5 separate regions of the Homo sapiens genome follow, and all the other regions are linked to region 3. Evidence: fine-mapped expression QTL. A gene starts in region 3. Each other region holds a variant in brackets. All regions are shown on one strand. Distances are from middle to middle.

Region 1 (6,269 bases), 23 kb after region 3:
GTTTTCAGGTCTCTACATGGTCCATGAGTAAGCTTCAGGAGAGCCGTGCACACCCTTGAAATTCCATGCCAACAAAGCGTGTGTAGGTGCTGCTCAGCTGTGTCTTTCTGGAGGGGAGGGTCCATTACTTTCACTGGCCTCTGGCAGGTCTGTGTGAAGGCTAAAAACCACTGCGGTGGCCGGGTGCGGTGGCTCACACCTGTAATCCCAGCACTTTGGGAGGCCAAGGTGGGTGGATCACCTGAGGCCAGGAGTTCAAGACCAGCCTGGCCAACATGATGAAACCCAATCTGTACTAAACATGCAAAAATTAGCCTGGGATGGTGGCATGTTCCTGTAATTCCAGCTACTCGGGAGGCTGAGGTGGGAGAATTGCTTGAACCCGGGAGGCGGAGGTTGCAGTGAGCTGAGATCGCACCACTGCACTCCAGCCTGGGTGGCAGAGTGAGACTCCGTCTTAAAAAAAAAAACAAAACACACAAACCACTGTGGCAGGAGCGTTTCTATTCACTCTTTGCTCTCCCACTGGAGGCAAAAAGCTACACAGGCTAGAGAGTGACCAGGCAAGAGAGTCACCTGATCACCATTTGAAGCGTTTGGCTACCAGAGGTCTGTCTAAGGGAGGCTGTTGGTTTGTTCTTCAAGGTTTTCATTTTTTGATCTAGAGCAGGAGTCAGCAAACCGCCATTGCCAGGCCAAATCCAGACCACTGCCTGTTTTTGTAAACAAAACTTCATGGGGTAGAGCTGTGCCTGTTTGCTCCTGTCTGTGGCTGCTTTTGTGGTATCTCATCAGAGTCAACGCAGTCGTGACAGAGGCCATATGGCTTGTAAAGCCCAAAAGGTCTACTGTCTTAGCCAGGCACACTAGCTCACGCCTGTAACCCCAGCACTTTGGGAGGCTGAGGCGGGTGGATCACCTGAGCTCATGAGTTTGAGAGCAGGCTGGCCAACATGGTGAAACCCCGTCTCTACTAAAAATGCAAAAATTAGCCAGATGTGGTGGTGGGCGCCTGTAGTCCCCACGACTCAGGAGGCTGAGGCAGGAGAATTGCTTGAACCCGGGAGGCAGAGGTTGCAGTGAGCTGAGATTGTGCCACTGCACTCCAGCATGGGTGACAGAGCGAGACTCTGACTCAAAAAAAAAAAAGTCTATTGTCTGGCCCTTTATGGAAAAAGTTTGCCAACCCTTGGTCCAGAGGCCCCAGGAAGCTGCTACGTCACTGTTCCTCGTCTGAGGGCATGTGCTGACACCCACCATTCACACCCACACCCTCTGGTTGCATGGGCCAGCTCTCCTTCTAAGTCATCTCTTTCTGCCTCCCCCCAGGGTGGAGGGAGTTCCATGGGCATTCCCCTGCCCCCTGAGGCCTCTGATGAGGGCTCCAGTGCCTGCTCCTTGAGAACAGACCCCAAAAGGGAAATGAGGTCAGTGAGGACAGGGCTGAAGCAGTTAAGCAACACTCTTGGGCTGACTGGGGCTTCTGCTGAGCAGAGCCGAATCTCATTCTGATACAACCCAGGACTTCAGAAAGCAGAACTGTCGGGATCAGCTCCCAGAGACGCCAAGCTCAGGGCACAATGGCACTTTCTGTTTGTGTCTCCCACCCGTGTTCTAATTTGGGGGACAAAGGAGTCTCCAGGGTCGCCTTTAGGAATTTCTAACTCCAATCTTCAACAACCATGTTGGGGCTGTGGATAATAGCTCTGTGATAACCCAGGACTCTAGGGGACGGCGCTGTGGAAGCCTTAATTCGGGGACTTCCTGGGTCCCGGGGCCTTTGTGCTGCATGGGCTGTGGTCTAAATACAGATGACCAGGGGCTGCGAGCTGTTACCCCCACTGGTAGGAGAGGGGGCTCCAAGCGGGCACACGCCTTTTCCTTGTAGTCCAGAAGGAGATGGCCATGAGCCATCCTTCCAGAGCCCAAGAGGTCGGCACCCATGGTGGTATTTCCCTCCCAAGTGGAGGCTCCGAGGGGCAAGGGTGGCTGTCGCGTCAGGTAGGCTGCCCAGTAGCCAGTGCTGGCTCTCCCAGGGCCCTGCAGCACAGGGCCTGGGCCATCGCGTGCCATCCGTGGAGGGCGGACGCCAGGTCACTCCATGGGGGCAGAGCACTCCCCACGGTGTGGATCCTCAGCCTCCCCCGGGACATCTGGACGGCACGCTCAGTGTTTGTTCAGTGCCTCGCGTTTGTACAGCCCTTTGCACTCGCTTCATCGGCTGGAGCACAAACACGGCCGGCGGCTGAGGCCGCATCTTGGGGTCGCCACCCTCCAACCCGGAGCCTGGGTTGCTTAGAGATGGGAGCAGCTGTAGCCAAAATTGTGAACCTGCCATTTCCACTCCATTACTCTGACCCCTGTCCCCGTGGGTGGGATGGGGATTTCTCAGCAGAAGCCACACAGAAAAGCGGGTTTCAAAATGTTGCCAGGCTCCCCGATGAGACATTTCTCTGTGGATTTTCCCTTTTGATTCCTTCAAGTCTGACTTTAAACCTGAGGAAGGCATGATTTCATGGGAGGTGGGATCTGAGGGAAGTGAAGAGGATAAACATCCCTCTTCAGATCCTGGAGAGGAGGGCAGGATGGCAGATGCCCCCAGAGAGGGGACAGGAGTTTAGTGCCGTGGCTCAGTAGACCCCGCGTCTGCAGCCAGGAGAGGGTCCCACGGTGGCCCCCGGCCAGCTCTGGAGGGTCCAGGAGAGGGTCCCGCGGTGGCCCCCGGCCAGCTCTGGAGGGTCTAGGTGCCTGGTGAGCGGGACTTGCCAGTGCCCAGTGCCTGCTGTGCCTCCCCACCTTCCTCTCTTTCTGTCCTGTACCTTGGGGAAGCTCAGGCAGTCAGCTACTTGCCATTGGTTTGGGGAGAATTTGCCATCTGAGGGTTCTGCCTCATGAATTTGCTGCAGTATGTGACCACGTTCAGACGGAAAGGGCAGCGGTATTGGCAGGACTGGACCCGGCCGGGAAGGCACAGGAGGTGGCCGGGGGAGGGGAGCACACCCTTCCCCTCCCTTCAGCACTGAAGCAGAAAGGTGACCACAAGGACCTTGTCCCGG[G/A]CAGCATGTGCTTGGAGGTGCCCGGTTGTTGTGGGTAGGAAACAGCCCAGCCTGGCAGAGTCTACCTGTGCAGTCTGGTTCCGGGATCCCGGCCTGTGCAGGTTGTACAGAACTCTGGGTGTGTACTCCAGCCACTTGGGGACAAGGCTCCCTCTGGAGGGGACCCGAGGGCCAGAATGCCAGCCCCCACCCACCACCCAGCTCCCCAGCCCCCACCCACCTCCCAGCTCCGCAGCCCCCACCCACCACCCAGCTCCCCAGCCTCCTGCAGGCCAGGGAGGACTCGGGAGTCCGTGGATGTGGAAAGTCAGGGCCGGGGGTGCCACGGTTGCCCCTTGTTTCTGCCTGCCAGCAATGCCATGGCCTGCCCTGGGCCAAAAGGCACGTACGTCCGGCATCTTAGAGAAGCTCCCGCGCCCGCACTGTCCCAGGGCCTTGGCCCTGCAGGCACTCCTGTCCGGTGGTCATGCTCTATGGCCAGAATGCCAGGGGAGGGGCCGCCTGCAGCTGCTGTTTTCCCCTCTGGGAAGGTCACACAGTCCGGCCTGTTTATGCTGCAGCCAGGGGGCTGAAAGAGAGAGAGTCACGGGCTTCCCTGTGTGACTGAGGCTGCGTGGAGGCAGTGAGTGAACAGCCCGGGCTGGCAGGACAGGTTGACCCGCACGGAGGCAGAGGCGGCGAGGGGGCTGTGGGAAGCACCTGAGGGCGGGAAGAGGGGCTTGCACTCCCACCTGTGAGTGTGGTGGTGAGTCAGGAAACAGCTCCGGCTTCCTGCTTGGCAGCAAAGCTGGTCCTTCCCCTCCTGGGGTCCTTCCCCTCCGCCAGCCCTCGAGGCCCGCGCTAGGGCGCTCTGCTCAGCGCTCAGCCCTCACTCCGGCACCGCGGCTTCGAACAGCCATTATGCGCAGCTGAGACCGGTGGAGGCAGGGAAGCTGGGGACGGAGTGAGCGAGAGGGGGAATGTGGGGAGTGACCCAGATGTCAGGATGACCTACGGGAGTCCACAGGCAAATGCAAGCCCATCCGATGCTGTGGCGCTGGACCATGGGGAGGTCAGCCGAAGGCAACAGCAGGAGGTGAGGGCAGGGGGCAGATGGGTCTAAAAGGAGCTTCAGAAGGAATGTAAGCCATCTCTAGTTGGGGACTGGGCATTGTGGTATCCCCCTGTAGTCTCAGCTGCTCAGGAGGCTGAGGTGGGCAGATGAGTTGAGCCCAGGAGTTCTGCACAATAGCGTGCTGTGTTGATGAGATGTCTACACTAAGTTCAGCATCAGTGTGGTGACCTCCGGGGGGTGAGGGACCCCCAGGTTGCCTAAGGAGGGCTGAACCGGCCCAGGTCAGAAACAGAGCAGGTCAAAAGTGTCCTGCTGATCAGTAGAGGGATCATGCCTGTGAATAGCCACTGCGCTCCAGCCTGGGCAATACAGCATGACCTCATCTCCAAAAACAAATTTAAAAAAATGACCGGGCGCGGTGGCTCACGCCTGTCATCCCAGCACTTTGGGAGGCCGAGGCGGATGGATCACCTGAAGTCAGGAGTTCGAGACCAGCCTGGCCAACATGGCGAAACTCCATCTCTACTCAAAATACAAAAAAAAAATTAGCTGGGCATCGTGGCGTAGTGGCACATGCCTGTAATCCCAGCTACTCGGGAGGCTGAGGCAGGAGAATCGCTTGAACCAGGGAGGTGGAGCTTGAAGTGAGCTGAGATTGTGCTGCTGCACTGTAGCCTTGGCGACAGAGTGAGGCTCTGTCTCAAAAAATAAATAAGTAAATGAATGAAAAATAAACCTCTAGTTGAAGGGCGCAGATTGGATCTTAATAAGGCACATGTAAAAGCCGTGGGATCCAAACTGAAGTGTGTATTGGCCGGAGCCACAGGAGACTCCAGAGAGGCAGCGTGGCCTGGGGCCTACACACAGAGGCTTGGCCTGGCTTGAATCCCCAATCTGACCATTACTAGCTTGGGGGAGTCCCTTGACTTTTCTAATCTTTAAGTTTTTGTTTTGTTTTGTTTTGTTTTGTTTTTTGAGGCAGAGTTTCACTCTTGTTGCCCAGACTGGAGTGCAATGGCGCGATCTCAACTCACTGCCACCTCTGCCTCCTGGGTTCAAGCGATTCTCCTGCCTCAGCCTGCCGAGTAGCTGGGATTACAGGTGCACGCCACCACGCCTGGCTAATTTTTTGTATTTTTAGTAGAGATGGGGTTTCACCGTATTGGCCAGGCTGGTCTCGAACTCCTGACCTCAGGTGATCCCCTGCCTCGGCCTCCCAAAGTGCTGGGATTACAGGTGTGAGCCACCGCGCCCGGCCTCATGGTGTTTTTTGACCAATAAAAGTTTTTAAATAGGTGGTCAAAAGTGTGTTTCAGCTTTTAGGGAGTACCTAGCATTTGTGTCAAATGAAACCTCTCTGAAGAGAACATGAAGGATGACCTTGACCAGTGAAACCCAAAGCATAAACATCCTGACAGCAGTCAATGTGTGGTCACAACAGAATAACAAGGACAGGAGAAGAAAGGCCATCTCTGTGGACACTAATTATTTATTTAAAGGGGAATACTAATTTGTGTTTTATCCTGTAGTCGGCTTCCTTTTCTTCCTCCCAGAGCTGTGGTTCCTGCCAGAGGACACTTCCCTCGTTGGCTATGCCCAGGAGCAGCTTGACCAGAAGATTTTCCCTGTTATGAAGTCATAACACATATCATAATAGTAACTATTGTTAATACCTACCCTATTTATGATCTTTAAAACCCTCGGCCGGGCGCAGTGGCTCACGCCTGTAATCCCAGCACTTTGGGAGGCTGAGGCGGGTGGATCACCTGAGGTCAGGAGTTCGAGACCAGCCTGGCCAACATGGTGAAACCCTGTCTCTACTAAAAATACAAAAATTAGCCGGGTGTGGTGGCGGGTGCCTGTAATCCCAGCTACTTGGGAGGCTGAGGCAGGAGAATCGCATGAACCCGGGAGGTGGAGGTTGCGGTGAGCCGAGATTGCACCATTGCACTCCAGCCTGGGCAATAAGAGCGAAACTCCATCTCAAAAAAAAAAAAAAAAACTGAAAAAACAAAACACCATGAATTAAGAAGTTAAATGACAAACTAGGAAAATTTATTCATAGTATATAGAACTGTGAATGTCTTCATTTTATTTTATTTTTATTAATTTTTGAGACAAGAGTCTCGCTCTGTCGCCCAGGCTGGAGTGCAGTGGCA
Region 2 (5,852 bases), 60 kb after region 3:
CCTTCTCCAAACCCTCTAGGCCTCTGTCTGCAGCTGCTGCTGCCTGGACCTATACACAAGGTCCCACCCCTCACCGGGGCCAAAGACGTGGTTGCAGGCCCTGGTGGATCCTTTCTGTTTTGCTCCATCCCCGTCCCCTCTTGCACCCAGCATCGTCCTGGTCAGAACTTCCGTTTAAACCTTCCTTGCCTGCCGTGCACTCCGAGGGGGGCGTCACTTTGCCATAGGCCCCAGGGCTGAAAATGGCGGGACATCCAGTATTGGGCTCACGTGCATAAGACTGTCCCAGACAGCAGCACAATCACGTTCAGCCAAGTGGAGTTTCCGACGCACTTGTGTGGCAGCCGCGTGAATGTGAGCCGATATGCAGCTGGGAGGGGTTGTGGGCCTCCTGCGGTGAGGGGCTCCTGCCAGGAGCTCTGAGAAGCCTCCACAGAATCAGCCGTCGGGCTCCTTCAGCAGCAGCTCCCCTTATCTGTGCCAACGACTGGGGGCCTAACTCAAGGGTGCCAGCCCGTCTTCCGCCAATACAGACTGTGGGATTCTGAGAGTTAGGAGCCTGGGGTCCCCTGGGGTGGGGTGGTCAGGGTGAGCAGGTGGGCTCTGTGAGCCTGTTTCCCCATGCCCTGACTCACCCCAATCCCTGGGTGAGGACAGAGCTCCTGAAGGCCACTGAAGGAGGTGCAGCACACTCCACCTGGGTGGCCTTCCGCAGCTCAGCCCTCTTCCTGCCAGCAGGAAGCCTCTGCCTGTGCTCCTTAAGTTAGCCATCCTCACCCCCTCCGGGCAGCTCTGAGACTGAGCCAGGGCCACTAGCAGCACCCAGACCTCGACCCTTCTCAGACCGAGGCGCCACCACCCCAGGCCGAGGAGGCAAGGAGGGAAGACCAAAGTCTAGAGGACTGTCTTGGTGGCCCTGGGCGAGTCTTGAACTTTGGTGCCATCATCTGCAAAAGGGAGGAAAGAATGCCTGCGTGGTGCAGCTACGTGGATACGCAGTGAAGACCCGCATGGTGGGACGCCTGGCACTTAACAATGGTAGCATTTGGCCGGGCGCGGTGGCTCACGCCTGTAATCCCAGCACTTTGGGAGGCCGAGGCGGGCGGATCACGAGGTCAGGAGATCAAGACCATCCCGGCTAAAACGGTGAAACCCCGTCTCTACTAAAAATACAAAAAATTAGCCGGGCGTAGTGGCGGGCGCCTGTAGTCCCAGCTACTTGGGAGGCTGAGGCAGGAGAATGGTGTGAACCCGGGAGGCGGAGCTTGCAGTGAGCCGAGATCCCGCCACTGCACTCCAGCCTGGGCGACAGAGCGAGACTCCGTCTCAAAAAAAAAAAAAAAAACAATGGTAGCATCGTTTTCAGTGCCCAGGAAGAAGGCAGCTGGGACAGGGAAAGGGCCACCACACCACACCCAAGCCCATACAACAGGAGAGCCACTTTCAGCAGCTCTGAGCAGGACAGACTTGTGGCCAAGTCAAGAAAGTAAGGTCTGGTCCCAGCGAGGTGGCTCATCCCTGTAATCCCAGTGCTTTGGGAGGCCGAAG[C/G]GGGGGCGGGGTGGATCACTTGAGGTCAGGGGTTTGAGACCAGCCTGACCAACATGGTGAAACCTCAACTCTACTAAAAATACAAAAATTAGGGCCGGGCGCAGTGGCTCACGCCTGTAATCCCAGCACTTTGGGAGGCTGAGGCGGGCGGATCACAAGGTCAGGAGATCGAGACCAACGTGGCTAACACAGTGAAACCCCATCTCTACTAAAAATACGAAAAAAAAAAATTAGCTGGGCGTGGTGGTGGGTACCTGTAGTCCCAGCTACTTGGGAGGCTGAGGCAGGAGAATGGCATGAACCCGGGAGGTGAAGCTTGCAGTGAGCCGAGATTGTGCCACTGCACTCCAGCCTGGGCGACAGAGCAAGACTCCGTCTCAAAAAAAAAAAAAAAAAAAAAAAAAGTAAGGTCTGTATCTGCTGACCCCACCCTTCTCCGAAGCCCTCTCCGAGCAAAGCCTTAAGAAACTCTTCTCTCGTTCACTTTTCTTTTGTGGCTTTCACGTTTTGGTAAGACTTGGCCAAATAGCTGCTCGAGATAATCAATCACTGGTGGACAAGTTTCTGCTGAGTGAGGTTTCTGCTGAGTGGGGCGACTCAAGGCACGGTCACGTAGGCAGCACCTGTACACCGCATCCTCATACAGCTGCGGGACCGTGCCTCTGACTGTGTGCGTGTGTGTTTATCTAAGTGTGAGATGCATCCGGGCATGTCAGGGTGTGTACATGTTGGGAAGACTGTGTAGATTTCTTGTGTGCCGCTCTCTGAATGGAGGAGAGGGGAAGCGTCTTACCTCGCTGAATCCCTTTCCATTGCTGGAAAGAACACCTGGGCAGGAGCGGCCCCAAGACCCCGCCCAGGCCCTCGGAAGGGAGCCTGAAGGGTTAATCCGTACCCTGTATTAACCAGGGTCAACCCAGCGGCTGACCCGCCTCTTCCCTGCTCCTTTGCCGTTTCTAGCACCTGGCTTACTTCCTGGCACACAGTGAGCACTCAATAAATGTATGCTGAGAATGACTGCGAGCGGCTTCCTCCTTGGCTCCTGTGTCTCTTTCTCCCTAGATCACACATTTCTCGCCTCTTGTCTGGTGCCCAGGTTCCCTGTCCCTTGACTGGGATGCGTTCCTGACCCCCACCCCTGCCAGGCTGCATTTGCTGGTTGATCTGCATTGCCATTTGAAGGAGTGTGGGAGGGCAGAGCAACAGGCCTTTTGGGTGGGAAGACCAAGGCTGCTGGTGAATTCTGCTTATAAAGGAAGCCCCCTCGGATCACCTGAAGTCAGGAGTTCGAGACTAGCCTGACCAACATGGTGAAACCCTGTCTCTTCTAAAAATACAAAAAGTAGCCAGGCGTGGTGGCGAGCATTTCCAGCACTTTGGGAGGCCGAGGCGGGCAGATCACGAGGTCAGGAGATCGAGACCATCCTGGCTAACATGGTGAAACCCTGTCTCTACTAAAACTACAAAAAATGTCCAGGTGCGGTGGCTCACGCCTGTAATCCCAGCACTTTGGAAGGCCGAGGCGGGCAGATCACGAGCTCAGGAGATCAAGACAATCCTGGCTAACACGGTGAAACCCCGTCTCTACTAAAAATACAAAAAAGTAGCCGGGCGTGGTGACGGGTGCCTGTACTCCCAGCTACTCGGGAGGCTGAGGCAGGAGAATGGCGTGAACCCGGGAGGCGGAGCTTGCAGTGAGCGGAGATTATACCACTGCGCTCCAGCCTGGGCAACAGAGCGAGACTCCGTCTCAAAAAAAAAAAAAGAAAAGAAAGAAAAAAACATTCTTTGAAGGCTGGCGCATGCTCTGCCTTGGTCCCCACTCTACCCCCAGTGCCTAGAATCGTGCCTGGCATGGAATAGCTGCTCAATAAATATTTGGGGGACGAAGTTTAAAAAGAGAGAGAGACAGAAATACCACAGAAAAGAAGCTAAAATAGACTAAGAGGCTGGGAGAAGAGCAGAGCGGAAGATGGAAACAGTGAAATACAGTCTCCCCAGGACACCCAGAGATGGGTTACAGGGCTGGCTATAACCGACGCAGTACCAAGGGTCAACCACCCAGGGGAAACCATGCTGAGAACTGGAACCGTGAGATCCACAGACACAATGATGAAAGAGTGGCCGGGTGCCGTGGCTCATGCCTGTAATCCTGGCACTTTGGGAGGCTGAGGCAGGTGGATCGCTGGAGCCTAGGAGTTGGAGACCAGCCTGGCCAACATGGTGAAACCCCATCTTTACTAAAAGGGCAAAAAATTATCCGGGCGTGGTGGCGGGCACCTGTAATCCCAGTTACTCGGGAGGCTGAGGCAAGAGAATTGCTTGAACCTGGAAGGCAGAGTTTGCAGTGGGCTGAGATGGCACCATTGCACTCCAGCCCGGGCAACAAGAGTGAAACTCCATCTCAAAAAAAAAAAAAGAAAAAACAAAACAAAACAAAAAGACGAAGGAGTGAGAGAGAGAAATAGACTGTGATAGAACACAGCAGACACAGGGGAAAGGAGATAGCCGCAAAGAGACGATGAAACATGGGGTCTTGTGGTTCACATCTATAATCCCAGCAATTCGGGAGGCCCAGCCAGGAGGATCGTTTGAGCCCAGGAGTTTGAAACCAGCCTGGGCAACATAATGAGAGCTTGTCTCTTAAAAAAAAAAAAAAAAAAAAAAATTGGCCAGGCGCAGTGGCTCACGCCTGTAATCCCAGCACTTTGGGAGGCTGAGGCGAGCAGATCACGAGGTCAGGAGATCGAGACCATCCTGGCTAACATGGTGAAACCCCGTCTCTACTAAAAATACAAAAATTAGCCGGGCGTGGTGGCGGGCTCCTGTAATCCCAGCTACTCGGGAGGCTGAAGCAGGAGAATCGCTTGAGCCCCGAGAGATGGAGCTTGCAGTGAGCCGAGATCATGCCACTGCACTCCAGCCTGGGCGACAGAGCAACACTCTGTCTCAAAAAAGAGAAGAAAAACAAAACAAGGGCTGGGCGCGGTGGCTTACACCTGTAATCCCAGCACTTTGGGAGGCCGAGGCAGGCGGATCACGAGGTCAGGAGATCGAGACCATCCTGGCCAACACGGTGAAATCCCGTCTCTACTAAAAATGCAAAAATTAGCCAGGCGTGGTGGCATGCGCCTGTAATCCCAGCTACTCGGGTGGCTGAGGCAGGAGAATAGCTTGAACAAGGGAGTCGGAGCTTGCAGTGAGCCGAGATCGCCACTGCACTCGAGCCTGGTGACACAGCAAGATTCTGTCTCAAAAAATAATAATAAAAAAAAAAAAAAAAACAAAGACTGAGACCACAGGAAGTGGGAGAGAGGGGAAGGGAAAGGCCCAAAGAGGAGAGACAGGAAGCGAGGTAAAGGTGAGGCAGAAATGCAGAGAGCCCAGAGAAGTGAGACGACAGTCATAAAGGGAGACAGAGATGTGAAGGGAGGGACAGAGAACAGAGAGAGAATGAGACAGGGTGACAGAGGTCCAGAGAGAGACAGCCTGGGAGAGCCAGAGAGACACAAGTGAGAGACAGAGAGATACGAAAGGGACAGGAGAAACAGGAAGAGAGAGGGAGCTTGAGAAACTGAGAGAGGACGGACAGAGGGAGCAAGGCAAAGAGAGAGAGATCCATGGAAAGCTGCTCGTTTCTTTCCTCTGTTAAGCCTGGAGCATGCAGAAATGCAGAAGTAGGTTTTTTGTTTTGTTTTGTTTTTGATACAGAGTCTTGCTCTATCTCGGCTCACTGCAACCTCTGCCTCACAGGTTCAAATGATTCTTCTGCCTCAGCCTCCCGAGGAGCTGGGACTACTGGCGCACACCTCCACGCCTGGCTAATTTGTGTATTTTTAGTAGAAACGGGGTTTCACCATGTTGGCCAGGCTGGTCTCGAACTCCTGATCTCAGGTGATCCACACACCTCGGCCTCCCAAAGTGCTGGGATTACAGGTGTGCGGCACCGTGACCAGCCTAGAGGTAGTTTTGAGGGGCAGGGGTGTCCATCCCTCCTTGTTCACAACGCCCTTTTCCCAATAATTAATAATAATAATAATAATAATAATAATAAGGAAATATGCCACTCACTGCAGAAAGCTGCTTCATGTCCATTGCCTCATCCAAGGAGGCTCAGCAGCCCCATGACGCAGGTACCGGCATGTTCCCTATTTCCCAAGTGAAGAAACTGAGATACAGAGAGGTTAAGTCACTTGCACAAGGTCACAGAGGTAGGAAGTGGAGGCCTGGGACTCCAAGGCAGCGGAAGTCTGTGTCCTGGGTGGGGCTGTTGGCTCACAGTGTGGCACAGCTGGAGAGTGGTG
Region 3 (6,269 bases):
GGATTCCAGGTGTGAGCCACCGCACCTGGCCATTTGCCCCTTTTCAGGAGTTCATGTTTTCATTCCACAAACTCATATTGTGCAACTGCTTTGTGCTTGCTTCTCTATCAAGGGCTGGTCATACAAAGTTGAATAAGACACCGTCCTGCCCCCAAAGAGTTCATAGTCAATTAGAGAGGAAGGCAAACAGACGAATAGCTAATTATAAAACAATGCCAGCAGTGGACAAATAAAGTGAACAGTATTAATGGGGAGTGGTTAGGGAAGGCTTCCCAGCGGAGGTGCCGTCCAAAATGAGGCTATGTCGCGAGCTAGAGGAGAGAGAACAGCAGGTGCAGAAACCACAGGCAATTCCATGTGACTGGAGCATCGGGGACCAGGCAGGTCAGATGTCCTTCAGAGGGAGGGAGAGGGAGGAGCCTGTGTGGGTCAAATTGGGGAACTGGAACTTTTAAATTTTGTTTATTTTTTTGAGACGGAGTCTCGCTTTGTTGCCCAGGCTGGAGTACAGTGGCACAATCTCTGCTCACCGCAACCTCTGCCTCCCCAGCTCAAGCAATTCTCCTGCCTCAGCCTCCCAGGTAGCTGGGATTACAGGCGTGTGCCACATCACCCAGATCTTTTTTTTTTTTTTTCTTTTCAGACAAAGTTTCGCTCTTGTTGCCCAGGCTGGAGTGCAGTGGCACGATCTCGGCTCACTTCAACTTCCGCCTCCCAGGTTCAAGTGATTCTCCTGCCTCAGCCTCCAGAGTAGCCGGGATTACAGGTGTGCGCCACCACACCCAGCTAATTTTTTGTTTCTTTAGTAGAGACAGGGTTTCACCATCTTGGCCAGACTGGTATCGTACTCCTGATCTTGTGATCTGCCCACCTCGGCCTCCCAAAGTGCTGGGATTACAGGCGTGAGCCACCGCGCCCAGCCATTTTTGTATTTTTAGTAGAGACAGGGTTTCACCATGTTGGCCAGGCTGGTCTTTAACTCCTGACCTCAAGTGATCTGCCCGCCTCAGCCTCCCGAAGTGCTGGTATTACAGGTGTGAGCCACCGTGCCCAGCCAGGAACTGGAACTTTATCCTGTTTTACAAATAATAGTTTCTGAAGGATTTTGGCAGAAGTCACATTTACATTTCCCTTAGTGCCCTGGGATGAGATGGGGGCTGGATTTGAGGAACTGAAATCTGAAGGTGGCTCAACAACAGTAGTTGCGGGCCTAAGGGCACAGATGGACCGATTAGGTAAATATGTAGGAGATACAGCTGTATCAGTTTGATGGGGATGCGGTGAGGGAGAGGCAGAATCACAGCGACTGCCTAACAAATGTCTGATGAAAGGATGGTTCTCAGCAGGGCACTGTGAGTCATGCCTGTAATCCCTGCACTTTGGGAGGCTGAGGTGGGAGGATCACTTGAGCCCAAGACTTCAAGACCAGCCTGGGCAACAGGGCAAGACCCTATCTGTACAAAAAATACAAAAATTAGCCAAGTGTGGTAGCATGCACCTGTGGTCCCAGCTACTTGGGAGGCTGAGGCAGGAGGATCACCTAAGCCCAGGAGGTCGAGGCTGCAGTGAGCTATGATCATGCCACCACACTCCAGCAGTCTGGGTGCCTGAGATCCTGTCTCAAAAAAAAAAAAAAAAAAAGAAAAAGAAAAAAGACAGGGTTCTTGGTATCTAACTTCAGTAGACAGTAGTAGTATGGTTATCTGAGAGAAAATGTGGAGGACAGTTCTGGGGGATATTTGAGGCATGTTTGAGCCCTGCAGCGCCGTCAGGCTGCTCAAAGAGGAGGGAAGGGTGAAGAAAGAGATTTTTCAGATGGCAGTTGAAACCTTGGGAGTGGGAAGGGTTCCACAGGGTGAGGAACCGGGTAGGCTACCAGCTGGAGCCGCCCCCCAGCAGGCTGACAGCTCCAAGCGTTGTCTGGGGGAGGTTGCCCTCGCCAGGTGGCCCGGGCGGATTCTAGACAGTAGGGGGCACACTCGGACTGGGGCAGGTGGAGCAAGAGGCGTTTGGGGCTCCCACAGCCCTGGGGTGGTGGTGGGGTTTTATTTTTGGTTTTTATTTTGGTAGAGATGGTTCTCGCCATGCTGCCCAGGCTGGTCTCAAACTCCTGTCCCCAAGTGGCCCTCCGACCTTAGCCTCCCAAACCGCTGGGATTCCAGACGTGGACACCGCGCGGCAGCCCTGGGGTGCTAAGCCAGCCCCCCGGAGCGAGCCAGGGTGACCAAGGCGATTCTGGGGCAGTCAGAGGGTCTTCCCGGGTCGGGTTAGTGCCTCGAATCCGGGGGACGAAGACGGGGAGCTGAGCTTTCGGAGCCCGGGCTTATCAGACGGGGACCCGGAGCCCCCTCGAACCCTCCCTAGCTTGTACCAGCTGGCGGACGTGGCCCGTAGCATCGCCCTGCAGAGGGGACCTTCCCTGAAAGGGACGGGGAACGGGGTGAAGGTGGCCAGCGCGGGCAGGGAGCACCCAGATGACGATCAAGGGTGGAGGGTCCCCGGAGGACCGAGCAGTGCGTGAACACGGGCGGAGAAAGGTCAGTCTGATGGGGGGAGCTCAGGAGACCCCATCCTAGGACGGGACAGACCAGCCCCAAATCCCCTTGCAGATTTCCAAGGGCCAACTTCCAGGGACCGGGCAGACGCCACCGGGGAGAGGGGAAGGGGTCGGTGCATCAGCGGGGGGCGCCACGGCTGGACCGGGTCCGGGATCCCAGGCCCCGAATACGCCGGGACGGGAACCACCGGGGCGGGGGAGCGAGGAACCAGGACCCAAAGCCCGAGGCGGCGGGGACGGCGGCGCTGCGTGGGGAGGAGGCGGGGTGGGGATTCGAGAGTGGAACCACCGTGCGGAGCCGGCGCATCTGGGCGTGGTGACCCGCGCGCAGGGGGCAGCTGGGGACGGCGGGGCGGCCGCGGGAGAGCCCGGCTGGGGGCGCTGGTGGCCCGGCGGCTTCTGGGGGGAGTCCGCTGGGGGCCGGGACGCGGAGCCGGAGCCCCAGCCTCGCAGGGTCAGGCCGCTGGAGAGGCCGCGGGGCGATGTCGCCGGGGATTCCCGGCCGCGCTGTGACTCGGGTTGAAGGCTGCAAAGCCGAGGCCCGGCCCGCAGCGCCCAGGCCCCTCCCGTCCCCCATCTCTCTTGTTTGTCTCCGAGTCCGGCCGGAACCGGCTTCTGCTCGCGGCGGGGCGGGCGGGGGGCTGGCTGCTGATTGGTCGACGCCTGTTTCCAGCCCCGCTCAGCCAATCAGCGGGCGGCAGTGTTTTCTTCTTGGGGTCGGAATAAAAGGGCTGGAATAAAAGAGGGCAGAAAAGGCGCCGGGCGGGCCCGACACACGCCGGAGGAGCCGGGTGAGCTGCAGCAGGGAGGGGATCGCGGCCGGGGCGAGGGCGCGGGGGCAGAAGCGGCCGCCGAAGGGGCGTAGGGAGAAAACGTGGGAACGAGGAGAGAGATGGAGCGATGAGGGGCCGCCAGGGAAGAGATGACGAACAGATGCGGGCTGGGGAATGGAGGCGCGGGGGTCCGAGGCCATGGAAACGGGCGAGTTGCCGGGGGAACGCCCGAGATGGGGGTCGCGCGGCTGGCTCGCGCCACCGGTTTGAACCGGCTCCTCGTCTCCCACGCTGGGTTCGCGTGGCCGCAGCGCCTAGCGACCTAGACGGCGGCCAATGGCGCGGCAGTTCCTGCGCCGTCCGGCCAATGAGCGCGCCGGGGCGGGCCGTTCCGTAGGTCTGGGCGCTGATCTTGTGGTTGAAGAAACCAGCTCTGGGGAAGGGTCTCGGGCGCGGGCGGGAGGGCACCTGTCAGGGTCCCTGGGAGAGGCAGCCCTCGGATCTGCCCCTGCCCACCTCACGCTGCGTTCCATGCTGGCCCCAGGCGATGTCAGTCCTGCTGCAGGCCAGGACTAGTTCCACGGCCCTGAGCATGCGTTAGCCCCTTCTTGCCTCCATGCCTCAGTTTACCTCGGAGTGAGCTGCGGGAGACGTCTCCCTGCCTGGCCGGGGCGGCTCTGTCGTAGCGGAGGGCAGCGGTACGAGCCGGCCGCGGGCTCGGGGTGTCCCAGGTCCGGGCAGGGCTGGGGTTCGCTTCCTCTGCTGCGCGCACCGGCCGCCGCGGCCGGGGAGGGGTGGCAATCCCGAGCCCTGCGGCAGCGGTCGGGGCTGCTGGGGGCGGCCGCAGGGGCTGGGCAAGGGCCGGCCGCTGACGCCGAGTTCTGTGCGCAGGTGGTGCAGAGCCGGAGCCGGAGCCGGAGCCGCGCCGCGCCGCACCATGGCGCCCACCCTGGCCACTGCCCATCGGCGCCGCTGGTGGATGGCCTGCACGGCCGTGCTGGAGAACCTCCTCTTCTCGGCAGTCCTCCTGGGCTGGGGCTCGCTGCTCATCATGCTCAAGTCAGAGGGCTTTTACTCCTACCTGTGTACCGAGCCAGGTGAGACAAGCGCCTGGGGTTGCGGGGGGCTCCTGGAGCTGGGGCTTTGGGAGGGGGCGGGATGGGGGCGAAGACCTAGCGAGCCACAGCACCGCATTGCCCAGTGCCTCTAGGGTATCAGAAGGCCCATCTGATCCTCACCCAGCCCTGCCGGGTACTTGTCATTGCCCCTGTTTTGTGGACGAAGACATCGAGGCTCAGAGCGATCTGTCTTGCGCAAGGCCGCAGAGCCTGGGCCTGCCATCCACCCAGAACCCCACCTGCTGTCCAGGGTGTTCCTTCCACCCGCTACGAACAGTGCTGGACTGCTCTCCTCTCCTCCCAGCCCTGGAACATAGCTTGGCTGGTAGTAAACATGTTGCTGTCTGCTTGTGAGAAAGAGGAACTCCAGATTAAGGGGCTGGGGTGCAGCAGGAGAGGAAGTGGCCTTGCCTCCACCCCAGGGAGGGCTCATCTAGAATCTAGACGTTCCTCAGGCCATTGTGGAGTCTCCTAAGTGCTTGCTGGACACAATTTCTTGTCTATTTTTGCTGCCTTATGATTCTCCAAAGGACATTTCCCCCACGGGCTCTGAGGACATCTCCGTGGCTTTCCAACCCCATGGGGATGAAGGGGAAGAGAAGAAAGGAACGTTTATGGAAATGATGCTAGGGTTGTTCTCTCCTCTTTGCCTTGTCACTGGAATTGCTGAAGGCAGGCTGAGGATGCTTCTCTACATGACATCTGCACCACCCAACACACACTTACCTTCACACCTTCATACCCTGTTGGAGGGTCCTGATGACTACAGGGCAGTAAATTCAGCCCCACAGGAGGGCCACAGCAGCCCCCAGCCTCTAGCCTCCTACCCTCCTTCTTAGGCAACCTTGACAGGAAATTTTCCCTCTGCCTTCTCCTTGATCCCAACGGTAGCTGCATAATAGCTGAGCTCACATAATCCCTGTCGCCAGTGCTAGAGTGCCCTTAGATGGAGGTAGCCCAGGTTTGACTTCCTGAATCCCCAGCAGCAGGCCTTTTCTTTCTAGAGCTCTTTGCAGGAAGAGAAAGCTTTGGACCAGCTCATGCTGGGTGTAATCCTTTGTGGAAGCCTCCCTGTTTCCCTTCTCTGATCTGCCCCGGAGATTCCTGTGTGTCCCAGTCTCTAGGGAGGGAGGCTTAGCTGGAGAGGTTCAGGGCAGGAGAAAGCAGGAGAATGCAGAGGCCGCGGGGAGAGGACAGAAAGTATATCATTTATAACTAACCTTTAGCCTTTAGCCACTCAAAAATATTTCCTAATAGCCTAAGGGTTCTTGGCAGGTCTTTCCCCACATCAGCAAGAAATCTTGGGAGTTGGGAAGAGTCAGACCTTGTTCCCTGAACAAGCTTTCTGCTTTGGCCAAGAGTTGTTAGGAGATTAATGCCTGTCCCCGAAAGGCACAGGTTGGAGTGTTTACTTCTTCCTCTCCTTTCCTCTCTCCCCCCTTAGAGATCGTGACCCTTCCTGCTTGCCTCCCTGGTGGGCTCTTTCAGGCTGGACACAGGGTTTAAAAAAAAAAAAAAAAAGCAGAAAAAAAGTCATCGTCCCCAGAGAAAGCTTTTAGTGTCTCACCCAGACCAGAGAACTGTTGTGGGCAGGTGTTTTTTTGTGTGTTTTTTTTTTAACCCACCATGATGTCGGAAGGTCAGATTCTAGGTGTTTTTTGTTTGTTTTTTGTTTTTTGTTTTTTTTTAATAGAATGTCCACGGATTTAATTGATTGTATGGTTTTGGCAGAATTGGGTCTGGTCCTTTCATTCCTGCCTCAACCTCAGCTTCCTCCTCTGTCTAAGTGGGAGGAGTCCCAGAGATTGTGCCAGCGCAGTG
Region 4 (6,269 bases), 42 kb after region 3:
AATGGTAGTCTAGGCCAGGCACGGTGGCTCACGCCTGTAATCCTAGCCCTTTTGGAGGCTGAGGCAGGTGGATCATGAGGTCAGGAGTTCAAGACCAGCCTGGCCAAGATTGTGAAACCCCCATCTCTACTAAAAATACAAAAAATTAGCCAGGCGTGGTGGTGGGCCCCTGTAATCCCTGCTACTTGGAAGGCTGAAGCAGAGAATTGCTTGAACCCAGGAGGTGGAGGTTGCAGTGAGCCGAGATTGCGCCACTGCACTCCAGCCTGGGCGACAGAGTGCGACTCCATCTCAAAAGAAAAAAAAATATCTGTGGAACACACTTTGGGGAACCCTAATCTATCATGTCTCTTTCTTTCTTGTTTTTTTGAGGCAGGGTCTCTTTCTGCGTTGCTTAGGCTGGAGTGCAGTGATGTGAACGCTGCAGCCTTGACCTCTTAGGGCTCCCCAGGTGCGCGCCACCACACCCAGCTAATTTTTAAATTCTTTGCAGAGATAGGGTCTTGCTGTGTTGCCCAGGTTGGTGTCGAACTCCTGGGCTCAAGGGATCCTCCCCTCTTGGCCTCCCAAAGTGCTGGGATTACAGGCGTAAACCTCCACACCCAGCCTGATAAACATTCAGCCCTGGAGTGGCGGAAACCCCAAAGTGTGCAGAGAGAGCTGGTCCCTGGCCCTCGAAAGGCTCATCTCCCTGCTGCTGAGTCAGCGTCTTTTACTCAAGCTGTCTGAGAAATCTTTTGCTGCCCAGGAGGAATGTTTCCAACTGTTTCGTATGTTCAAAAAGTCAATTTCAAGAAGTAGAGGAAGCCAGGCCAGGAAGGTTGGTCTGTGGCAGACGAGGCACTGGTTTTCCCCCTCCTCCTTCTGTGACCCGTTACACCCAACACCCATAGCCCTAGCTCCGGCCGAGAGGCAGCTGCAGGGTCCGGGTCACTTTCCGCACACTCGTGAGCTTTGCGGCTCCGCAGGAGGGGGTGTGCCGTGCTGCTGAGGAACGGCTCAAAGCACCAGAGCCATCGCCTCCGCGTACGGCCCCGCGACCACCCGCGGCAGAGGCTCCCGGGTGCTGGTTCCGAATGGAGACTCCAGGCCTTGCCGCTGACCGGTGACTCTGCTGCCTCCCAGCGTTTGAGACCCGCCATCAAACAGGAGTTGCGGATTCAGGGAAACCCTAACTAGCCAGGGTGCTGGCAGCTGGGAAAAGGCCGCCTTTTTTTTTTTTTTTTTTTTTTTGAGTTGGGGTCTTGCTCTGCCACCCAGGCTGGAGTGCAGTGGTGCAACTGATAGCTCACCACGGCCTCCGACTCCTGAGCTCAAGGGATCCTCCCACCTCGGCCTCCTAAGTATCTGGGACTACAGGTGTGTGCCACCATGCCTGGCTAATTTGTTTTTTTTTTTTTTCCATAAAGACAAGGTCTTGCTATTTTTCCCAGGCTGGTCTCAAACTCCTGGGCTCAAGCAGTTCTCCCACCTCAGCCTCCCAAAGTGCTGAGATTATAGGCATGAGCCACAATGCCCAGCCAAAAATACAGTCTTTTTTTTTTGACATGGATTTTCGCTCTTGTCACCCGGGCTGGAGCACAGTGGCATGAGCTCGGCTCACTGCAACCTCCGCCTCTCGGGTTCAAGCGATTGTTCTGCCTCAGCCTCCCAAGTAGCTGGGGTTACAGGCACCTGCCACCATGCCCAGCTAATTTTTGTATTTTTAGTAGAGACGGAGTTTCACCATGTCTCCAACTCCTGACTTCAAGTGATCCACGTGCCTCAGCCTCCCAAAGTGCTGAGATTACAGGCGTGAGCCACGATGCCCAGCCAAAAAGCCAGTCTTGAGATGGGGAAGACGTGGCCCATGCTGTCCTCAGCAGTGCCCAGTCCCAGCCAAAGTGGGCACTGCTGCCTCACTCTCCCACCCACCCTCAGGGTGTGGCACTTACTGGGAAGAAGCAGGCATTGAGAAACAGAATTAAGGGGGGAAAACAGTCCAGGGCCAACAGTGCTTGGGGATTGAGGCCTGAAAATGGGAGCAGGGTACAGAGGCTGTGGCTGGCCAGATGGGTCGGGTGCCCCCTGCACCCCCACCCCCTAGTCAGGGGCCACCTGTCCTACCCTCCCTTTGTAAGAGTTGACAGGTGACATGTTTTCCTATTGTTGTCCTTGACTTGATAACAATCTAGGAGTTAAATAGATACTATCATCTGTTTACGTCATCATTTATGATAGATACTATCATCATATACACCTGAAAAACGAGGCCTGGAGTGATGGAGGAGCTTGTTCAAGGTCAGAGCCAGCACTCACATATGGGTCTTAAGACACTGGAGCAGCCAAGGGCCTCTAGACCAGGACATTCCACTCGGAGCAGCAGCTCAGGGGCCACCAGGCCTCTGTGGCAGGGGGGCCATGGCCCAAGGAAGGGGAGCAGGCCCAGGCATGGTCCCCGTTTCTTGGAGTGGAAGGGAGACCAGCTCTGGCCATCTGGAGGAGACCCATGGTGTCAGATGCCTTGGCTGGGCATCAGGGGCAGGTTCTTTGACCTTTCCCTCTCTCTGAGCACAGCAGGAGGTAGATGTGACAGAGCCGCTTCCCGCAGGCAGTGTGGTGACAGGGACCCTGATTGCACCAGGTCTTCCGCATGCCC[G/T]CCACTTCCCCATCACGCTACCCGCCAACGTCACAGGCCTGATTCACCAGTCCGCCTGTGACCCGGCACCAGCAGACAGGAGAATGTCAGCAGGGGCCCGGGCTGGGCATTGTCCCAAGTCCACTTCCAGAGGCCTGGCTGCAGCTCTGCCTCCCCTGAGCGCCCCGAGTCACGCTTAGTGGGAAATGCAGTGCGGGAAACGCAGTGTGGGAAATGCAGTGCGTGCTGGGCATGGAGTGAGCCTGCCTCCTCTCCCATCTCTCTGTAGCACTGAGATTTCTGCCACTAACCTCTCTTCTTTCTGCTTTTTCACTTTTGCTTTCTTGATGCAGTGATGGCCACGGGTAAGCGGGGGGTGGGGGGGATTGTCAGGGAATGCTGTGATGTCCCCTCCCAGCCAGTCTCTGTTCAACCCAGAAGCTCCTCACCTCAAGCTCCAGACATGCCTCCTGGCTAGAGCCGTGGGGGTAAAACTGGGGCAATCAACATTCCTCGTCTGCTTCCCTGGAAAATCCACTGTCATTTTAAGTCTTTGAATATGGAAGCCCTGACATCAGAGCCCCGTGAGCGGTGCCTTTCTGGGATATTTCTTTTTTTTTTGAGATGGAGTCTTGCTCTGTTGCCCAGGGTGGAGTGCAGAGGCATGATCTTGGCTCACTGCAACCTTCACCTCCCGGGTTCAAGTGATTCTCCTTGTAGCCTCCTGAGTAGCTGGGGTTACAGGTGCCTGCCACCACGCCCAGCTAGTTTTTGTATTTTTAGTAGAGACGGGGTTTCACTGTGTTGGTCAGTCTGGTCTCGAACTCCTGACCTCGTGATCCGCCCACCTCGGGCTCCCAAAGTGCTGGGATTACAGGCATGAGCCACCGCGCCCAGCCGTTCTGGGCTATTTCTAGAGACAGAAACTAACGGCCCGTCACTTAGCCTCCGTCACAGGAGTTCCCAAGTTATAGCGACTTCCTGGAGCTCTGGGAAGGCCATTGTGACACTCTGGGTTTCATTAGCTGTTTCTTAGAAACAAGCAGGGGATTTGGAACCGAGAAGAAGGTGACCTGCCCCGTGCTCCATCCTCAACTTCAGAGTTAAGGTCTCCGGGCTCCTCGCAAGACCCATAGTGACAGGGGGTTCTGGGGCAGACCCCAGAAGAGCCTGTGGGGACCAGCCCCTTCCCAGCTGGTGCCCAGTCCCTGCTCCAGGGCTGTCTGCCAGGCGTCCCCATGACGCAGCGCCTTCCTCCACAGTTGGCCTCTACACCTCCATCTTCGGCGTGCTCCAGCTGCTGTGCCTGCTGACGGCCCCCGTCATTGGCTACATCATGGACTGGAGGCTGAAGGAGTGTGAAGACGCCTCCGAGGAGCCCGAGGAGAAAGACGCCAACCAGTGCGTAGGCAGGGCCGGTGCCCCGGCTCCCAGCCCGCAGCCCCTGCAGAAAGACCCCAGAGCTGCATGTCAGGCACAGGGTGGGTGGGACAGAGGGAGAGAGCAATGCACTCCAGCTGCTCCCGGAGCCCTTAGAGAGACTCACTCATTCAGCTCAGCATGCGTTTCAACTGCTCCCCTCTTTATGGAAATTGTTTGGAATGCAATGGAAATGCTAAAGTTTGAGGCCAGGTGCGGTGACTCATGCCTGTAATCCCAGCACTTTGAAAGGCTGGGGTAGGAAGATCACTTGAGGCCAGGAGTTGGAGACCAGCCTGGGAAACATGGCCAGCCCCCACTCCCCGTCTCTACAAAAAATTTAAAAATTGGCCAGGGAGGGTGGTTCATGCCTATAATACCAACACTTTGGAAGGTTGAGGTGAGTGAATTGCTTGAGCCCAGGAGTTAGTGACCAGCCTGGCCAATGTGGTAAAACCCGGTCTCTACTAAAAATACAAAAAATTAGCCAGGTGCGGTGGCGGCGCGCGCCTGTAATCCCAGCTACTCAGGAGGCTGAGGCGCGAGAATTGCTTGAACCCGGGAGGTGGAGGTTGCAGTGAGCCGAGATCACGCCATTGCACTTCCAGCCTGGGCAACAGAGCAAGACTGTCTCAAAAAGAAAAAACAATAAAGAAGAAGCATTGAGTAAGAAGGAAGAAAAAGAGACACAGGTGAAAGTGTACAGACAATGGCTAGCAGACCATTTTGCTCCTAAGACCACCCTCCCTCCACCCCTTGGCAGTGGCTACACCATCTTAAAGCCTCCCAAAGTACTGGGATTAACAGGTATGAGGCACCGCGCCCGGCTCAGATGGTGACTTTCATTCATTGCATTCAATCATGCAGCCCACCAACCCTTTGTTATCTGCCTGCAAGGTTTATTCCGGTCAGTTTGAGTAGTGAGTTGCTATAAACATATTATGTGTTAATAGAGTTGTTCATGATTGTGAAGATTAAACAAGGTACTGGAGTCCTACTTTATGTAAGGGATGGGCTCCAAGATCAGAGGATGAGTTAAACGCTGTTTTCTTTTTTCTTTTTCTTTTTTTTTTTTGAGACGGAGTCTCGCTCTGTCGCCCAGGCTGGAGTGCAGTGGCTCTATCTCGGCTCACTGCAACCTCCGCCTCCCGGGTTCACACCATTCTCCTGCCTCAGGCTTCCAAGTATCTGGGACTACAGGCGCCCGCCACCACGCCCGGCTAATTTTTTTAATATATATTTTTAGTAGAGACAGGGGTTTCACAGTGTTAGACAAGATGGTCTTGATCTCCTGATCTTGTGATCCGCTTGCCTCGGCCTCCCAGAGTGCTGGGATTACAGGCATAAGCCACCACGCCCAGCCAAACGCTGTTTTCCATGGCTCCACACCTTAATATAATAAGCTACGGTTTATTGCCTGAGGCCCTCCACCGAGGACTCCATGCACAGTATCTCAGTGAAGACTCCCAGCACCCTGGCGAAGTGGGGACCAGTGTTATACCCATTTTACAGATGAGGGAGCTGAGGCTGGGACTTGCAGTAGTTTGCCTAGGGCCGCACAGTTAGGAAGTGGTGGGCCTGGGACTCCCTGCACATCTGTGAGCACCTGGGGTCCGTTCTTGGATCATCCAGGGTGTCTGCGTGGGTGTGAGACTGGGATCGGTAATCGTTCATTCACGAGAGATAATTGCAGAGGGTGCTTGGCCGGGCGCGGTGGCTCACACCTGTAATCCCAGCACTTTGGGAGGCCAAGGCGGGTGGATCACAAGGTCAGAAGATCGAGACCATCCTGGCTAACATGGTGAAACCCTGTCTCTACAAAAACGCAAAAATTAGCCGGGTAAGGTGGCGCGTGCCTGTAGTCCCAGCTACTCGGGAGGCTGAGGCAGGAGAATCGCTTGAACCCAGGAGGCAGAGGTGGCAATGAGCCGAGATCACACCACTGCACTCCAGCCCGGGTGACAGAGCGAGACTCCATCTCAAAAAAAAACCCAAAGAACAAAAAAACAAAACAAAACAAAACAAAAAACAGTGCTGTGCTATCTAGGTCAGGTCCTGCAGCCAAGAGGTTATTTGTGTCCACTCCAGTTCCATCTGCTGCCTGCTCATTTCCCCTTTACCCTCTCCTGTCCCCACAAGGGGAAACCCATTCACTCCCCTATTTGGCTTGTATCTGGCTTCTTATCAGCGTCCTGCAAGATTTGGGTGAACTTGAAGCCAGTGGTGAAGTGAG
Region 5 (6,138 bases), 53 kb after region 3:
TTTTTTTTGAGACAGAGTCTAGCTCTGTCACCCAGGCTGGAGTGCAGTGGTGCTATCTCGGCTCACCGCAACCTCCGCCTCCCCGGTTCAAGCGATTCTCCTGCCTCACCCTCCTGAGTAGCTGGGAATACAGGCGCCCGCCACCACACCCGGCTAATTTTTGTATTTTTAGTAAAGATGGGGTTTCACTGTGTTGGCCAGGCTGATCTCAAACTCCTGACCTCATATGATCCACCCACCTCAGCCTCCCAAAGTGCTGGGACTACAGGTGTGAGCCACCATTCTCGGCTTATAATTTAATTATTATTATTATTATTATTTTTTTTTTTTGAGACAGAGTCTCACTTTGTCACCAGGCTGGAGTGCAATGCCGTGATCTCAGCTCACTGCAACCTCCACCTCTTGGTTCAAGCGATTCTCCTGCCTCAACTTCCCAAGCAGCTGAGATTACAGGTGCCCACCACCACGCCCAGCTAATTTTTTGTATTTTTAGTAAAGACAGGGTTTCGCCATGTTGGCCAGGCTGGTTTCGAACTCCTGACCTCAGGTGATCCACCTCCTCGGCCTCCCAAAGCACTGGGATTACGGGCGTGAGCCACCTTGCCCAGCCTATAATTTAATTTTTAATAATGACTCGGTTAGGCTGGGCGCAGTGGCTCATGCCTGTAATCCCATCATTTTGGGAGGCTGAGGCGGGTGGATCACAACGTCATGAGTTTGAGACCAGCCGGGCCAACATGGTGAAACCCCATCTCTGCTTAAAAAATACAAAAATTAGCCGGGCATGGTGGCGTGGGCCTGTAATCCTAGCTACTCCGAAGGCTGAGGCAGGAGAATTGCTTGAATCCAGGAGGCGAAGCTTGCAGTGAGCCAAGATCACGCCACTGCACTCCAGCCTGGGCGACAAAGCAAGACTTCTTCTCAAACAAAACAAAAAACAAAACAAACAAACAAACAAAAAATGACTGTGTTAACGACTGGCTTGCAAAATTTCTGAAAATTCACAATTGGCTCCGGAGGATGGGGTTGATCCAACTCCAGGCTGACACTGCCCCTGGGGTGAGGGCCCCCAGGAATTGGAGGGCGGGGGCTGAGGGGACGGTCCCTTAAGGCCTTATGCCCACAGTCGCCTTTTCCTCCCCCAGATCCTCTCCTTCATCCTGCACACAATCGTGCGAGGATTCATCCACTCCGCTGTCGGGGGCCTGTACGCTGCCGTGTAAGTCCTGGAAGCCGCAGGTGGCCTGGTGGGCGAGGGTGTGGGAATGGCCGGGGGGAGGTTGCTGGTGGGACTGAGACTCTGAGGCAGGGTCAGCCTGTCCCAGAAGGGCTCATCTTCCTGCTTCAGGGGACAGGTACCAGGGTTTCTGCTGGGTGTTTCAGGGAAAGGCCATACCTCGTGGGAAGCAGGTCAGTGGGCAGACAGTTGGGTGCTCACAAGCCTTGGCATTCAACACGAAGTCAGTTCCCCCAGCCAGGGTCAGGCACCTGTGCAGCTCATTATGGCCTCAGGGGCCACTACAGCCGAGTCCTGGGGCTGGCCCTGGCTGCTCACTGGGAAGGATGGGTAGGTTCTGGCTGCCTGAAGCTAAATGCGGAAGTTCCAGTTGCCCTCATCACGGGCAGCAACATGGGTGACTGAGTCCAGAATACACCAGACGGGCCCATCCAGAGCCTCAGTGCGCCCAGCTCTGGCCATAGCTTTCTCCAGCCCTGGCTAAAATGAAACCTGTATCTTTTTCCAAGAAGCCCCAGAAACATAAAAGGAACCACAGTGGTTCCTTCTTCTCTGGCTCAGGCCTTGACCCAAAAACTGAAACTCAAACATCATCATCCACAGTCTCTGATGTGGGACCAGCTCATGTGTTGCTGGGATTCCTTTCCCACCTCTGGGCCAGCAGAGCCTGACATGTGCTAAGATTTAGCCCGGAACTCTCTCCCAATTCCCGCAACAGCCCCTGGGGTAATCCCAGCTCCGCTTGCCCTCCGCCTGCCCCTCCCCAGGCCTGGAGGAAGCTGTGGCTGTCCTGGCAGGGTCTGAGGGAGGGGGGCGGGATCTGTGGTGCTGAGTTTCCGCGATTACTCAATGCTTCTCTGGACGAGGGCACTGCAGAGCCAAGCCCAGCCTCCACACTCCTCTCTGGGCCTGTTTCCCAAACCGCAGGTCCCCGCTGGCACCACGCTTTCCACTCGGCTCAGCCAGACACCCACAGGCCCTGGGCACAGCTGAGTGGGGTGGGCCCTCCCCAGAGTCTGGGGCCTGGAGCTGGTCCAAAGAGAAACACTTTGCAGAACCACCCAGCAGGGCCGGGCGCGGTGGCTCACGCCTGTAATCCCAGAACTTTGGGAGGCCGAGGCAGGCAGATCACAAGGTCAGGAGTTTGAGACCAGCCTGGCCAACGTAGTGAAACCCCGTCTCTACTAAAAATACAAAAAATTAGCCAGATGTGGTGGCGGGCGCCTGTAATCCCAGCTACTAGGGAGGCTGAGGCAGGAGAATTGTTTGGACTGGGGAGGCGGAGGTTGCAGTGAGCCGAGATCGTGTCATTGCACTCCAGCCCAGGCGACAGTGCAAGACTCCATCTTAAAAAAAAAAAAAAAAAAACAGAACTGCCCAGCAGGAAGGAATCCGAGGGCTGGCACCCCACCCTTCTCTGGCACCAACGGTGCAGCCCGGGGTCACCAGACACCTGGGGCCAAGCAAAGCCCAGGAGGCAGGATGGCTGTGAGCTGTCGCTTGCCCTGCAGGTACCCCTCCACCCAGTTCGGCAGCCTCACGGGACTGCAGTCTCTGATCAGCGCGCTCTTCGCCCTTCTGCAGCAGCCGCTGTTTCTGGCCATGATGGGTCCTCTCCAGGGAGACCCTCTGTGGGTAAGAGGGGTCGGGGGATGGTGGGTCATGGGCGCCTGCCCCCTTCTGCTAACTGCGAGCTGCAAGGTCCCCCTCGGGGGCTTCAGGGCCCCGAGGACATGTGGGAGCGTTGGTTAGGATTGGTTAAGAGTCCCTTTGTGAATGGTGGCTAGGCAGGAAAAGGAACATGTCCTCTCTGGACCTGATTTGGGGAGAAATAGAACAGAGTTCCTGGGCCGGGCGCGGTGGCTCACACCTGTAATCCCAGCACTTTGAGAGGCCGAGGCGGGAGCATCACTTGAGGTCAGGAGTTCAAGACCAGCCTGGCCAACATGGTGAAACCAGGTCTCTACTAAAAATACAAAAATTAGCCAGGTGTGGTGGCAGGTGCCTGTAATCCCAGATACTCGGGAGGCTGAGACAGGAGAATCACTTGAACCCGGGAGGCGGAGATTGCAGTGAGCTGAGATTGCGCCACTGCACTCCAGCCTGAATGACGACAGCGCGAGACTTCGTCTCAAAAAAAAAAAAAAAAAAAAAAAAAGAACACAGTTCCTGTCCCCGCCCCACCTCCGAGGGCCAGATTTCCTCACCAGGTACCAGGAACTTGTTCCAAGCCCAGAGGTTCAGATCAGCCCGTGTTTCCTGGGGGCCCAGGCCCTGAGGGTGGCCACATGGCCTGTGAAGAGTTGGGAACCGGGACGCTGGCATATGGGACCTCGTGGGCCTTCCTGTTTCGTTCCCCCTTCCACCCCGTGACCTTCTCCCCTTTCCCAAACCCGAGTGGAGGGCGGGTCTGCAGCCTCGGCGCACCACCACGCCCTGTGATGCGCGGCCTCCCTGCCTCCCCAGGTGAACGTGGGGCTGCTCCTTCTCAGCCTGCTGGGCTTCTGCCTCCCGCTCTACCTGATCTGCTACCGGCGCCAGCTGGAGCGGCAGCTGCAGCAGAGGCAGGAGGATGACAAACTCTTCCTCAAAATCAACGGCTCGTCCAACCAGGAGGCCTTCGTGTAGTGGCTGCCGCCTCGGAACTGCGGTCTCCTGCCTGTGCTTCAGTGACTGACCCCTGTCCTGCCCCTCCAGAGTACCCCACGCACCCCCAGGACCTTCGCCGTCTCCGTGCCAGCGTTCACGCTCCCTCCCGGGGCCCTGCCTCGGAGCTCTGTGGTGGAAGGACGGGAGAGGGCCCCGGACACGCG[C/A]GTTTTCTCCTGCCGAACGCAGGGGCTGCCCTGACTTTGCTCTGCCGCCCCCCGGGGACCCGGGGCCTGGGGTCTCTGTGGTGCCTGCAGCAGGAGCCAGGAACGCCCGGCAGGCAGGCGCTCTCCCGCCAGTGTCTGGATTCTGCCTCTTGCCAAAGCAGAGGGGGCTGCCATCCCCTGCCTGCCACCTGCCCCTCGGCTGCATGCCCACAGCCGTACCTGCCTGAGGACAAAGGCTTGCACTGTCTCGCCCGCGCCTGGCCCCCACCCCCTCCCCGGCCAGCCTGAGGCTGCCTGAGGAAGGAAGGACCCGCTTCCTGTTGTCGGTGCTAATTCCTTTGTAATTCCAGCCCCCTGTCGCCTGTCCAGGGCCTGCCCACCCGTTGGAGGCCGGTGGAGAAGCCCCACCTGGCTTATGCCCTGGAGAGGGTTTAGCGGGCTGGGTGGACCCCTCGCCTCCTCCCCGAGGGCCAATGCCGCGGACACGTTTTCACTGTCACCCTCGTTCTGTCTGCCACCTGAAGGGAATTTGAGGACCGCCGCCAGGGCACCCCGTACATACACACAGCTGCTTTTGTGGAGGTGGACGAAAGGCTGTGGCCGGCAGACGTGGAGGTCCAGGCCGGGGTGGGGACGTGGGTGGGTCCGAGGTGTGTGTGGGGTCGGGGTGGGCTCTAGGAGTTAGCCCTTATCCCCACTGACCAGGCGGGAGCCGCCAGGCCTGCAGCTGGGCCAGTGCCCAGGAGCCATCCTGGCGTGGGGCCAGGAGCTTGTCCAAGGCCACAGGCCCACAGCACCCCCTGCCGGCGGGCTCCGTGGGGCCCTGGAGCTGATGACGGGGGAGGCCCGTCCGCCTGGCCCACCAACCCGCCCACCTTGACTGCCCCCAGAAGTGTGTCTTGAGACCTCCTGGGCGTGCTTAGAGGGGTGAGTTGTGTTTGGATTTTTAGTTATTTTCTCTTCAGTTTTATTAGACTTCTTTTTTATAAAGCAATAAATCCATTTTCCTCCGGGTAAGGGATGCCCCTTCTGGCATATCAGTTAATAGCTGCATGTGCCTATTTTGAGCTTGAGAAGAAAAGGCAGGACAAGATTCTCTGCCACCGACCAGCTCCAGCCGTGCCCAGCTGCTCTTCGTCTCTCTGGGGGACTGCTGACTCGGGAGGGACAGTGGGCCAGGAAAAGACCTTCCTCCCCAACCCCCAAACAAACTGGGCTTGTGCAGACATCTTAGAAGTGTGAGCCACCCTCCTCTACCGATTTTCCCAGCCAAACAGGCGAATCCTGGTCCCTTTCCATCCCTACACCCTTCCACAACCCTGAAGATTCCCGCTGGGTTCTTCTGCAGGCTCAGAGCAGTTCAGGATGTGGGCGGCAGGGAGGGGGATGAAAGGAGAAGAGGAAAGGGCAGGTCCAGGCCACATTCAAGCTCCACATTAACAGCTTGGGCGCCTGGAACACATATCTCCTAGGCTTTATTTCACTCAAATATTTAAAAAAAGACTGGGCGTGGTGGCTCACGCCTATAATCCCAGCACTTTGGGAGGCCAAGGCAGGAGGCTCACCTGAGGTCAGGAGTTCGAGACCATCCTGACCAACATGGAGAAACCCCGTCTGTACTAAAAATAAACATTAATCGGGCGTGGTGGCGTGCGCCTGTAATCCCAACTACTCGGGAGCCTGAGGCAGGAGAATCGCTTGAACCGGGGAGACGGAGATTGCCGTGAGTCGAGATCGCACCATTGCACTCCAGCCTGGGCAACAGAGCGAGGCTCCGTCTCAAAAAGAAAAAAAAAAAGAGAACGAGATAAACATGCCCACTCCTGAGAACACTCGTTTTGTGATGTTAGTGGTTATTCTGATTTTCAAGAAAGTATTATAGTCAAGTTTGGGAAAGGCTGAGTTAAAAGTCAAGCCTGTTTCCTTACAGCCAGCACTGACAGCACTTTGCCAACGCTCATGAGCTCCGTGGCTCCTCAGGAGCGGGTGTGCTGTGCTGCCGAGGAACGGCTCGAACCATCAGAGCCACCAGCCTCCACGTGCGGCTCCATGATCACCCCCAGCAGAGGCTCCCGGGTGCTGGTTCCA

Direction of the effects. Positions count from the first base shown, and alleles are read on the strand shown. Sizes are in standard deviations (SD) of each study's normalised expression. Not every link is listed here.
For the expression in thyroid of the gene that starts at base 3,308 in region 3, allele A in region 1 goes with a higher level than allele G (small effect, 0.22 SD a copy in GTEx).

What was found. PIP is the estimated chance that this variant, and not a neighbour inherited with it, causes the effect.
Region 1: its variant is fine-mapped to the expression of SLC43A2 in thyroid (GTEx, PIP 0.96).
Region 2: its variant is fine-mapped to the expression of SLC43A2 in whole blood (INTERVAL, PIP above 0.99).
Region 4: its variant is fine-mapped to the expression of SLC43A2 in whole blood (TOPMed, PIP above 0.99).
Region 5: its variant is fine-mapped to the expression of SLC43A2 in whole blood (TOPMed, PIP above 0.99).

The regions. Positions count from the first base shown.
Region 1 is chr17:1,602,602-1,608,870 of GRCh38, reverse strand. The region is part of intron 5 of SLC43A2 (solute carrier family 43 member 2); the gene reads left to right. It also overlaps the pseudogene RN7SL105P. Among named protein-coding and RNA genes, the nearest start is that of SLC43A2, 23 kb to the left of the region's middle. RefSeq lists an enhancer at 1,563-2,328. The variant G/A (reference allele first, on the strand shown) is at 3,057.
Region 2 is chr17:1,565,981-1,571,832 of GRCh38, reverse strand. It overlaps SLC43A2 (solute carrier family 43 member 2), which reads left to right. Exons shown (of 14, transcript NM_152346.3): 14 at 1-2,565. Among named protein-coding and RNA genes, the nearest start is that of PITPNA, 6.1 kb to the right of the region's middle. RefSeq lists enhancers at 1-408, 4,796-4,845. The variant C/G (reference allele first, on the strand shown) is at 1,549.
Region 3 is chr17:1,625,873-1,632,141 of GRCh38, reverse strand. It overlaps SLC43A2 (solute carrier family 43 member 2), which reads left to right and starts at 3,308. Exons shown (of 14, transcript NM_152346.3): 1 at 3,308-3,348; 2 at 4,222-4,427. The coding sequence starts at 4,268. RefSeq lists enhancers at 4,060-4,597, 4,598-5,135.
Region 4 is chr17:1,583,662-1,589,930 of GRCh38, reverse strand. It overlaps SLC43A2 (solute carrier family 43 member 2), which reads left to right. Exons shown (of 14, transcript NM_152346.3): 10 at 3,880-4,018. Among named protein-coding and RNA genes, the nearest start is that of PITPNA, 24 kb to the right of the region's middle. RefSeq lists enhancers at 1,570-2,116, 2,117-2,663, 2,664-3,209, 3,210-3,756, 3,757-4,302 and 1 more. The variant G/T (reference allele first, on the strand shown) is at 2,639.
Region 5 is chr17:1,573,331-1,579,468 of GRCh38, reverse strand. It overlaps SLC43A2 (solute carrier family 43 member 2), which reads left to right. Exons shown (of 14, transcript NM_152346.3): 12 at 1,146-1,219; 13 at 2,749-2,872; 14 at 3,704-6,138. The coding sequence ends at 3,865. Among named protein-coding and RNA genes, the nearest start is that of PITPNA, 14 kb to the right of the region's middle. RefSeq lists enhancers at 706-1,516, 1,517-2,328, 2,329-3,140, 3,141-3,953. The variant C/A (reference allele first, on the strand shown) is at 4,051.